Linked DNA regions of Homo sapiens: region 2 is linked to region 1. The links come from fine-mapping of genetic effects on gene expression. A gene starts in region 1. The other region holds a variant in brackets. All regions are shown on one strand. Distances are between the middles of the regions.

Region 1 (5,316 bases):
GCTGGAAGTTGGAATCATTCATACAGCAATTTCTGTCAGGCATTGGCATCCATTACAAAAATGGCAGCCCTGTTCACCAATCCACGACCTTTGGGGATATAAAACTGCAATGCAATGTGATAGAAACTCTTGATAGCACTGTTTATTCAACAAGTGCTTCTAGTGTCACAGTATCAGGGATCATTCTCAGACTGGGGATATAGCTCTCCCTGAGCACATATCCTACTGTAGAGAGGCAACGAGCAAGCAAATAAGATATTTCTAGTCAGGGGCCGGGCACGGTGACTCAGGCCTGTCATCCCAGCACTTTGGGAGGATGAGGCGGGCGGATCACCTGAGGTCAGGAGTTTGAGACCAGCCTGGCTAACATGGTGAAACCCCTGTCTCTACTAAAAATACAAAAAATTAGCCGGGCATGGTGGCACGTGCCTGTAATCCCAGCTGAGGCGGGAAAATCGCTTGAACACGGGAGGCGGAGGTTGCAGTGAGCCGAGACTGCGCCACTGCACTCCAGCCTGGGCAACATAGTGAGACTACGTTTCAAAAAAAAATGGCCGGGCGTGGTGGGTCACGCCTGTAATCCCAGCACTTTGGGAGGCCGAGGTGGGTGGATCATCAGGTCAGGAGATCGAGACCATCCTGGCTAACGCGGTGAAACCCCGTCTCTACTCCACTAAAAATACAAAAAAATTAGCCGGACATGGTGGTGGGCACCTGTAGTCCCAGCTACTCCGGAGGCTGAGACAGGAAAATGGCGTGAACCCGGGAGGCAGAGCTTGCAGTGAGCAGAGATCTCGCGACTGCACTCCAGCCTGGGCGACAGAGCAAGACTCCAACTCCAAAAAAAAAAAAAAAAAAGGAAAGAGGCTTCTATTCTCACAGGCAATATCATCACCCCCTACATTTAGGAAGAAATGCAAGTGTATTTAAACGTGAAGCCAGCCGGGAGCGGTGGCTTACACCTGTAATCCCAGCACTTTGGTAGGCCGAGGCAGGTGCATCACCTGAGGTCAGGAGTTCAAGATCAGCTTGGCCAACATGGCAAAACCCCGTCTCTACTAAAAATACAAAAATTAGCCAGGCATGGTGGTGGGCGCCTATAATCCCAGCTACTTGGGAGGCTGAGGCAGGAGAATCACTTGAACCCACGAGGCGGAGGTTGCAGTGAGCTGAGATTGTGCCACTGCACTCGTCTGGGTGACAGAGCGAGACTCCATCTCCAAAAAAAAAAAAAAAAATCCGTGAAGCCAGATTGGGTGTGGTGGCCAATGCCTGTAGTCTCAGTTACTTGAAAGGCTGAGGTGGGAGGATCACTTGAGCCCAGAGGTTGAGGTTGCAGTTAGCAAAAAAAAGTGAAGCTGTTTGGAAACAATCAGAAATAGCCTCCACTCCAGTCTTTTTTTTTTTTTTTCTTCTTGACAATGTCTTGCTCTGTTGCTCATGCCTGAGTGCAGTGGCCTGATCATAGCTCACAGCAGCCTCGACCTCTCGGGCTCAAGCAATCCTCCCACCTCACCCTCCGGAGTAGCTGGGGCTACAGGCACAAGCCACGATGCCTAATTTTTCTACTTTTTGTAGAGACGTAGTATCACTATATTGCCCAGGCTGGTCTGGAACTCCTGGTCCCAAGCGATCCTCCCGCCTCCGCCTCCCATTTAACTTCTCTAAAGCTGTTTCTTTAGCATGGGACATGCCTCACAGGCTGGTGTTAAAACCAAATGAAATACTGCAAAGTGAAAGTGCTTTGAAAAACCGAAGACAGGCAGGGCATGGTGGCTCACTCCTGCAATCCCAGCACTTAGGCAGGCGGGAGGATCACTTGAATCCGGGAGTTGGAGGTTGCAGTGAGCTGTGATCGCGCCACTGCGCTCCAGCCTGGGCGCCAGAGCGAGACAGTGTCTCAAAAAAAAGAAAAGAAAAAGAATTATTATTGAGAGTTTTGTTGTAGCTGTGAGCTTAGAGGAAGAAGCGAGGTCCAACCCAAGAAACACTTTGGGCACCAAATAAAACTGGAAACCCTGATCCCAAAACTCACACAAAAGTGAGAGATAAGGATGAATCAAGAAACCCTTGGACAAGATCAAAAGAAGCATTAGAGGTCAGTCAAGAATGTCACTTTCCTGGCAGGAAAGATTCGATGTGGAGAAAGCCGGCCCGGCGCAGTGGCTCATGCCTGTAATCCTAGCACTTTGGGAGGCCGAGGCAGGAGGATCACTTAAGCTTACAGTTCGAGACCAGCCTGACCAACATAGTGACCAGGGTCACTTCTTGGCAGGGTCTCCAAAATTCTTACTGAGAGACATTTAATGCACCGAAGGGCTTCATATCCGACGTTTTTGCTCCGGGGGTCAACCTAAAGCAGGAAGCTGCGCAGCTGAGCGTCCGCACCCCCGGTCCCTCAGGAACCCAGCCAAGTCAGCCGACATCCGCTCCTGACCTCAGGCGCCTCCTGGCGGGTGCTGCTGCACGCACCTGCGGGACGTGGACCTCCAGGACAGCCCCGTCGGCCCCCGGACCCGGCTCCTCCGAGAATCGAAAGCGCTGGGCCCGGACCCCCTGTCCTCGGAAATCGTGCTCGCCCAGTAGGGCGTCGTTGGGCCCCGGGCGGGCGGGGGACCGCGGAAGGCTCCGGGCTGCCAGACTGCGCGAGCGGGAAGCCGCGGGCCACGTGGCCGTAGCACCTGACGGCAAGAAGGGGAAAGCCCAGATCTGGTGATAACCCTGCCGCGCTGCGAGCGAAGAAAGCCCGGAGCAAGGCGAAAGAGACTCACACGCGCAGAACTGGCAACGGGCGGCTGGCGCGACCGGAAGTGATGGGCACAGCGGCAGCGCGGGAGGGGAGGGGCGGGGCGGGGCGGGGCGGTGACGCAGCCGACGTGACCTTCCCAACATGGCGGAGGCCCGCCGTATGTGAAGGAGTACCCCAGGGGAGCCAAAGCCAATGGAAAACCGCGAGAGGCGTCGGGGCGGGGAAGACGGCGGCCGCTTGCCCAACCCGAGGCTCGGGAGGTGGCTGGGGAGTGAATTTTCTGGAAGGCGACTTTAAAGGCGCCGGGACTGAGCGAAGGGCGTTTGGGTACTGCCGTCGCCGCCGCCCAGGCCGGGGAGGGGTGCGTTAGTGTCAGGAAGCGGGCTGCGCCGAGGTCGTAGCGGAACCAGCTGGCGACCCCGCAGAATGAACCACAAGAGCAAGAAGCGCATCCGCGAGGCCAAGCGGAGTGCGCGGCCGGAGCTCAAGGACTCGCTGGATTGGACCCGGCACAACTACTACGAGAGCTTCTCGCTGAGCCCGGCGGCCGTGGCGGTGAGCGGGTCGGGCGGGGGTGGCCAGGCCGGGCATCGGCACCTCCAGCCGCTACGCACCTTTCTCTGGGCCCGAGGCTGCCCTCGCCCCGAGCGCCCGGGACCTCGTAGAGGCTCACCCGCACCCCGCGGAGTTTGGGGTCCCCGAGGCGCGGATTCCGGGGCGGGTCTGCTTCCTCCCGTGCTGTGGCCGCCCGTCTGCTCTGGCGGACGACGGGAGTCCCACGCCTGTGGCGCTCTCAACTAGAAGGCCCGTCGTCCCTGACTCCTTTGGGCGGCGGGTCCCCTAGGGGACCTGGCTGTCAAGGCTCATGGGGGGTGGCTCTAGGAACGACGTGGCCTCACGCACGCGCCCTGCCCCCACCCCGGAGGAGCCAGACGAGAGTCAACTTCCTTCGGTTTGTCATTACCAGTTGGCCTTGGGGACACCCTTATCTGCCACTGGACTTTTTTTTTTTTTTTAACTGGACAGGTCTTTTTTAATTCCCTCAGGATAACGTGGAAAGGGCAGATGCTTTACAGCTGTCTGTGGAAGAATTTGTGGAGCGGTATGAAAGACCTTACAAGCCCGTGGTTTTGTTGAATGCGCAAGAGGGCTGGTCTGCGCAGGAGAAATGGACTCTGGAGCGCCTAAAAAGGAAATATCGGAACCAGAAGTTCAAGTGTGGTGAGGATAACGATGGCTACTCAGTGAAGATGAAGATGAAATACTACATCGAGTACATGGAGAGCACTCGAGATGATAGTCCCCTTTACATCTTTGACAGCAGCTATGGTGAACACCCTAAAAGAAGGAAACTTTTGGAAGACTACAAGGTGCCAAAGTTTTTCACTGATGACCTTTTCCAGTATGCTGGGGAGAAGCGCAGGCCCCCTTACAGGTAAAGTATTCTGCAGCTAAGTGGTTAAAATCCTTTTCTTTTTTTTTTTTTTTTTTTTTTGAGACAGAGCGTCACTCTTGTAGCCCAGGCTGCAGTGCCGTGGTGCGATCTCGGCTCACAGCAACCTCCATCTCCCGAGTTCAAGCGCTTCTCCTGCCTCAGCCTCCTGTAACTGGGATTACAGGCATGCGCCACCACACCCAGCTAATTTTGTATTTTTAGTAGAGACGGGGTTTCACCATGTTGGTCAGGCTGGTCTCGAACTCCCGACTTCAGGTGATCTGCCCGCCTCGGCCTCCCAAAGTGCTGCGATTGCAGGTGTGAGCCACCGCGCCCGGCCTGTGGTTAAAATCTTATCTACAACAGCATTTGCTCGCTGAGTTCAGTTGCTAATCTTTTTTGGAAACAGTGAGTACTCCCTCGGCTGTACATTGAACTCATTTAGGGGGCTCCTGAGGCCTGCCTGGGCCCTACTGGGGAGACTGATTTAATTCGGGTGATGCCTGCGCATCAGAATTTCTGAAAGCTCTTCAGGTGACTTGAATGTGCAGCTATGGTTGAAGCACTGATCTCTAAGGGAGGTTTTAATAAAGTCCAGCAATAAACCACATTAGTGATTTTTCTTTTTTTTTCTTTTTTTTTTCTTCATTGAGATGGAGTCTCCCTCTGTCGTCCAAGCTGGAGTGCAGTGGCGCAATCTCAGCTCACTGCAGCCTCCGCCTCCCGGGTTCAAGCAATCCTCCTGTCTCAGCCTCCTGAGTAGCTGGGATTACAGGTGCCCACCACCACACCCGGCTAATTTTTGTATTTTCAGTAGAGATGGGGTTTCACCGTATTGGTCAGGCTGGTCTTGAACTCCTGACCTCAGGTGATGCACCCACCTCTGCCTCCCAAAGTGCTGGGATTACAGGCGTGAGCTACCGCCCCAGCTGATTTTTCTTATTTTGTTAGGAATCAGTCCATGAACAATGCACCCAGTGTTTCTGTGTACCAGAATTTATATAATCTCTGAAATAAAGATGACATATCACATAAAATTAAAACCTGGCCAGGTGCGGTGGCTCAAGCCTGTTATTCCAGCACTTTGGGAGGCCGAGGCAGGTGATCACTTGAGGCCAGGAGTTCGAGACCA
Region 2 (5,365 bases), 45 kb after region 1:
TGGTAGCTGTGCCATTTTCCAAGCCTGGCGACCCAGAGCAGCTTGTGGGAATCACCCCCTACTTGTCAGCAGAAACCAGCGGTCTAGGGTCCGAGCAGGAGGGGTGGTTTATGATTTTGGAATCAGAACTCAACTGCCCTCTCATGGCTGCATGCCAAGCCACCCGCCGGGCAGCCCTCTAACCTCACAGCTGCTCTGCCGGTGACAGGCCCTGTCTCCCCTCCCGCTGCTGGCATCAGCGCTCTCGACCCTCAGCAGGAAAGCTCTTCACCCTGGGTGGGTGGGGGGCGGGCAGTGTAAGCACAGCCAGGAGGAAGAGCCCTGGCAGGAGCCCCGAGTCCTCAGGTGCTGAGGATGCTGCCGCTTGGCATGACCAGGTTTGCTGCATTTATATTTCAGGATTGAGCTGACCTCTGACCTCACTTCCCTGTAGCAAGTTCCTTAGGTCCTGAGCCACAAATATTCTTGCAAATCCTTTTGGTAAGGACACTGATTTCTTAGACTAGTGGTGCTCCCCTTCTACTGCGTGCTAACGTGCCCCCAAACAACTGACGCGGCCTCAACCTCCCCTCCTCCATCGCCTTCATAACCGATTAATACATTTCCCACCTGAGCCCTTCTCATTCTTCTCAAGCACGAGGAATCTCTGGCAGAAGAGGCCCCGTCTGGGGGCAGAGGTTCCTGGAGGGGAGTTAAGTCCCTGAGTTCCTGGAGGGGGCCTAATGGGCCGGCAGGTTGGGGTGCTAGCGCCCCCTCGCAAGGCTGGGGGAACTGTCACCCTGGGACCTCAGGCTTCGGAAATGTGGATGTCGTCACCCTGCAGCCTTGGGTCTCACCCTGAGAAGATGAGGCAGCTTCTGCACAGTGCACAGCAGATACTCTGAGAACGGTCCGTGCTCCCAAGCTGTGAGACAGGCAGGTTCTTAGGATCAGGGCAAGGGTTAGCAGACAACGGCCGGGCCACATCTGATCCCCCACCTGCCTGTGCCAATCCAGCGTGGCAGTAGTAGCAACACTCACCCATTTTCCTGTGGTCTGTGCCTCTTTGTGCCGCAGTGGCCGAGGTGAGTCACTGCAGCAGAGACCACACAGCCCCCCAAATCTAAGTAGTATCTGGCTGTTTGCAGAAAAAGGTTGCAGTCCCTGGACAGAGGCTAGAGGGGGCTGGACACAACTGCCAGCCCTTGAAGGTCCCTGGGGACAGAGGCTGCTCAGGCAGATGGATCTGGAGGGCCTCTTAGAACAAGAAAGACCAGGCCTCCGGCTGGGGGTGAAACTGCCACTGCCACCCACGTCCAGAGCTGGGACCTTGGCAGTGGGGAGGGAAAATCCCTTCCCCTTATTTTCAGAGAGTAGACCCTCTGCTGCCCATCCTTCCCCCACTGGATCTTTGGAGGTCTCTAGACCACCAACCCACACTTGGCTGTTCTGTGGGACCGAGACTGTGCCCGAGGTGCTGCTCCTGGGACGAGGGAAGACTCCTCGACTCCTCTGCATGCTGCAGTTACCACTTTGTGCCCTGAATTGAGAAGGAGGGGCCGGAGGACTTCTTGGGGCAGGACTGGAGTTCACGTTCATTCCCATCACTGCCCAGCCCGCATGCTCCCTGTGGCTCCTAGGCATGCCGGTGGCATCTGCTTGCTCCCCCACACCTCTGCCCCCCTGCATGTGGTTGCCCCTCGCAGCACTGCGTGGGGTCTCCGCGGCTCCACATCACGCTGTCCTCACACGGTGATGCTTGGGGTTGCAGAGGCTGGTCAGTTTGGCTTTGGCTCTTCATCTTCAGCACGATGGTTCTCATGGGGGTGGGGAGCGCTGGCAGCTGTGAGACAGTTCTGGTCCCAGCCAAGTCCAGGGAACCGCCCTAGAATCATCAGTATGAAAAATAACATGCCTGTTGTTATCAAACCACTAAAACCACAGGCCAGCTAGCAGGGTGCTCTCTCTCCGCCTGTCAGGTTCCACCCTCCCGGCCTCCATGCCTCTGATGCCTTTCCCAGCTCTCAGGGTCCAGTCGAGTTGCAGCTACAAGCTGCACGTCCCCTAACTTTAAATTTACTAGCTCAGCCAACAGATCTGCATCTAGAACCTGAAGCTTTAGTGGTTGCCAGTTCCAGCACTCCCCAGGAGCTTCAGTTCACAGGCTCTCATGACAATTAGGAAGTGGGACTGGAAGCAGAAGGCCCCCAATTAGTTCCCCGACATGCTGAAGTGGTCAGTCTCATCCTTGAACTACTCACAGATCAAATTCCTTCCGCCTGGGGCCAGAAAGCGGTCAGGTCTGTAAATCCAGAGGCAGCTGCTGCTTAAGATCCTGCTTGCCACTGTCTGCCCGCCTCCTCAGCTCTCCCCTCGGGCCGGAGTTTCACACACTTCATGCCTCTGGTGGCGTCCCTGGGTTCCGCTGAAGCTGCTGTGGGAAGTGCCACCTCCAGTTTCACAGTGTGGCTAGGACAGTGGGCTTGCAGGCTGGTGACAGCTCCCCTGAGCAAGAGGCCTCCTCCTCCTCCCCCAGAGCTAGGGAAGCTGGCAGGGCTTGGCTGGCTTCACAGCTTGGCAGGAGAAAGAACAGGCGCGGCTGTCAGCTCCTCTCCATCACTTCTTCCCACCTTGTGGTCTCAGAGGGAAAATGAACCCAGGCTATAGACTGGGCTGGCTCTGATAGATCAGGACCCACCCCTCCATTTGAGGTCTGCAGGGCTGTCTTGACTCCTCTGGAAATGGACATGACTCTAGAGGAAGGTGCTAGTGTGGTAAAACAGGGAAGGGGAGGAGGAGGCCAAGGAACCCCAGCTGTGGGGTAGTTCTGGTTCTTCCATCTGATGTATGCAAGAAACTACAGACAATAGACCTGCCAGTGTGAATTTCCAGCTCAGGCTGGAAATGCGTGCTGACTGTGACCACCAGGAGAGGGCGTCAGAGGGACAAGATCAGACCTGCTGGGTTCTCAGTGGTCCCAGGGCTGGCAGTGTGTCTTGGTTCATAAAAGACGGGCATGCAGTTGGCTCCATCTGGAAGCGTGCATCCTAGGGTGCCAGTATCCCCC[G/T]AGGGGACAAAACTCAGCCAGCGGGAATGGGAAATTATCTAGGGTGATAGGAATATTGTCAGCACAACCACACAACCCAAGATCAGAAAGGCCCTTGGCAACTCAAATGCCCAAGTTCCTTCCTTAAGTACCCTGCAGAGGCTGAACAGGGTCTGTGGGCTGCCAGGTTCTGTGCGGGATCAAGGGGAGCTCTGCAAGCTCTGGCCGGCTTGGCGGCACAGACTGTCTTGCTGCAAGCGATGAGAAGCAAATCAGCAGTGGTTTGAGAAACCAGAGTCTAGCGCAGCTTCTGCAATTCCAAACATTCTCCTTCCTCGTCCCCATTTCCCCCTTTCCTTGCCCATGGTGCAGGATGGAATGAGTAAAATAAATTATCTTTTTCTCCCCATTTCTCTTTACAGAACTGAAGAATAACGAAGTTATCCTTAGCGTCCTCCTAAAGGCTTTTCCTTTTGGCATCTTAAAAGCTTGAGAGATAAAACGGAAACCCCAGAGAGGAGTCTGGGCAGGCTCCCAGGGTGCATGCTGCCTCCATAAATCTGCTGAGCTCTAGACCCTCAATCAGGACTTGTCCCTTGGCTAGCAGGATCCTGGGAACACCTTTGGCCCTGCCCTGTGTAGAGATGTTCATGTCTGTTCCTGTGGGTCACTTTGTTAAGCTGAAGAGTTTTAAGAGGTAGAGCTCAGACCCTGGACTGGGATTTTTCTTACCACTCAAACTTGCTATCCACACACCCTGCACACCTTAGATAAAAAGAACATTTTAAAAGCAGAGTTCACTTTCACTCCAGTCTCCCCTCTTTTGCCCTCACTGAAGCCAAACCACAGAAGACTTTGAGGAATGAGAGACAAATGAGGTAGAGCTCACCTGTGCTCACCAGCTCCGTCAGGGTGGTCAGCCGACCCCTTTCCCTGGGAACCCCACTTCTCTCTGTGGCTGGCTTGGTTGTCGGGGGTGAGATGCCATATTGATTACAGGGCAGCAAAGAACCAGTACCAGGAATTTACTTGACCATTCCCCTTATTTTTCATCTAGAGGAATCTCGGATTCAGCCCTTTCATTGCTAAGACACCTTTTCACTGAGGTTCTTACCAGCTCAGCCAAATCTCCACTCTGCTATAGCAGAAGCAATAATGTTTGCTTTAAAAAGATTTCTTGACCTATGCCTTTTCTTAGAAAGTTTGATAGATTAGTTAGAACTTCAGATCATCAGATCAGTCTCAAATGGGTTTCTTGGAATTTTATATTTGACAATATTTATACTATACCAAACTCATTTGCAGTTCTTAGGTTTGTTGGTTAAAACATTTTTTTAAAGCAGTAAGTTTATAGAAAATGTTTTCATTTAATGGAAGGCTGGGGAATGTCCAGCATCAACCCCTATGGCATGCATTCCCAGGGGCCTTCTCATCTGGGCCTGGAACCTTTGGTTCAGGGCTTAGGGGAGAACAGGCCACATGGCAACAGCCACACAGTCATTGCCTTCAACACAGAGCCACGTGTCCCCAAACAGCAATAGTCATGCCCTTGTCCAGGCTGGGATCTAATTGACACAATAGGTCGTTGACTCCCTCCTAGTAGAGCTATCTAGGTTTGTCTGGAAAGTTTCCGACCCTGGCTTATAGGCACCACACCTCATGTACTCCTCATGGCTTGGATCTCTGTATTCAGCCTTTGTTCAGTCCAATAAACTTTGAGTAGATGATCTCAATTACTGTGTGTTTTTTCAGTTTGCTTTGTTTTAAAACAAAATCCCTTTTGAACCCATTGAAGTTTGACCTTTCTTTCATTTTGATGCCTCTTACTCTGCAGCAGAGTACAAAGCCATACATCCACCCTGTTAAAAAATATGCAGTCACCATGGCTGTCAAAACCACATGACATGATCTGTGTTCACTCAGGGACATATGGATTGTGCTTCCATCCACAGAGCTCAGCACATCCTTTCTGTTCACGGGAATTCCTCTTCTTCTTCTTTTTTTTTTTTTTTTTGAGACAGGGCCTCCCTCTGTTGCCCAAGCTGGAGTGCAGTGGTGCAATCACAGCTCACTGTGGCCTGGACCTCGTGGGCTTAAGTGATCCTCCCGTCTCAGCCTCCCAGGTAGCTGGGACTACAGGTGCTCACCACCACACCTGGCTAATTGTTTTATAGAGACAGAGTCTGACTATGTTGCTCAGGCTGGTCTTGAACTCCTGGGCTCAAGTGATCTTCCCATCTTGGCCTCCTAAAGTTCTAGGATTACAGGCATGAGCCACTGCACCTGACCCTCTTTCTTCTTACAGGAGGGCACAAAGCACACATCATAGGCTGCTGCTTC

Evidence for each region. PIP is the estimated chance that this variant, and not a neighbour inherited with it, causes the effect.
Region 2: its variant is fine-mapped to the expression of METTL23 in whole blood (TOPMed, PIP above 0.99).

Annotation. Positions count from the first base shown.
Region 1 is chr17:76,724,335-76,729,650 of GRCh38, reverse strand. It overlaps METTL23 (methyltransferase 23, arginine), which reads right to left and starts at 2,812. Exons shown (of 5, transcript NM_001080510.5): 1 at 2,473-2,812. JMJD6 (jumonji domain containing 6, arginine demethylase and lysine hydroxylase) reads left to right here and starts at 3,045. Exons shown (of 6, transcript NM_015167.3): 1 at 3,045-3,304; 2 at 3,796-4,184. The coding sequence starts at 3,176. RefSeq lists enhancers at 1-626, 1,284-1,912, 2,543-3,172 and silencers at 2,432-2,881, 2,992-3,121.
Region 2 is chr17:76,678,962-76,684,326 of GRCh38, reverse strand. MXRA7 (matrix remodeling associated 7) reads left to right here. Exons shown (of 4, transcript NM_198530.4): 4 at 3,448-4,761. The coding sequence ends at 3,460. Among named protein-coding and RNA genes, the nearest start is that of MXRA7, 29 kb to the left of the region's middle. RefSeq lists enhancers at 1-258, 1,352-1,898. The variant G/T (reference allele first, on the strand shown) is at 3,047.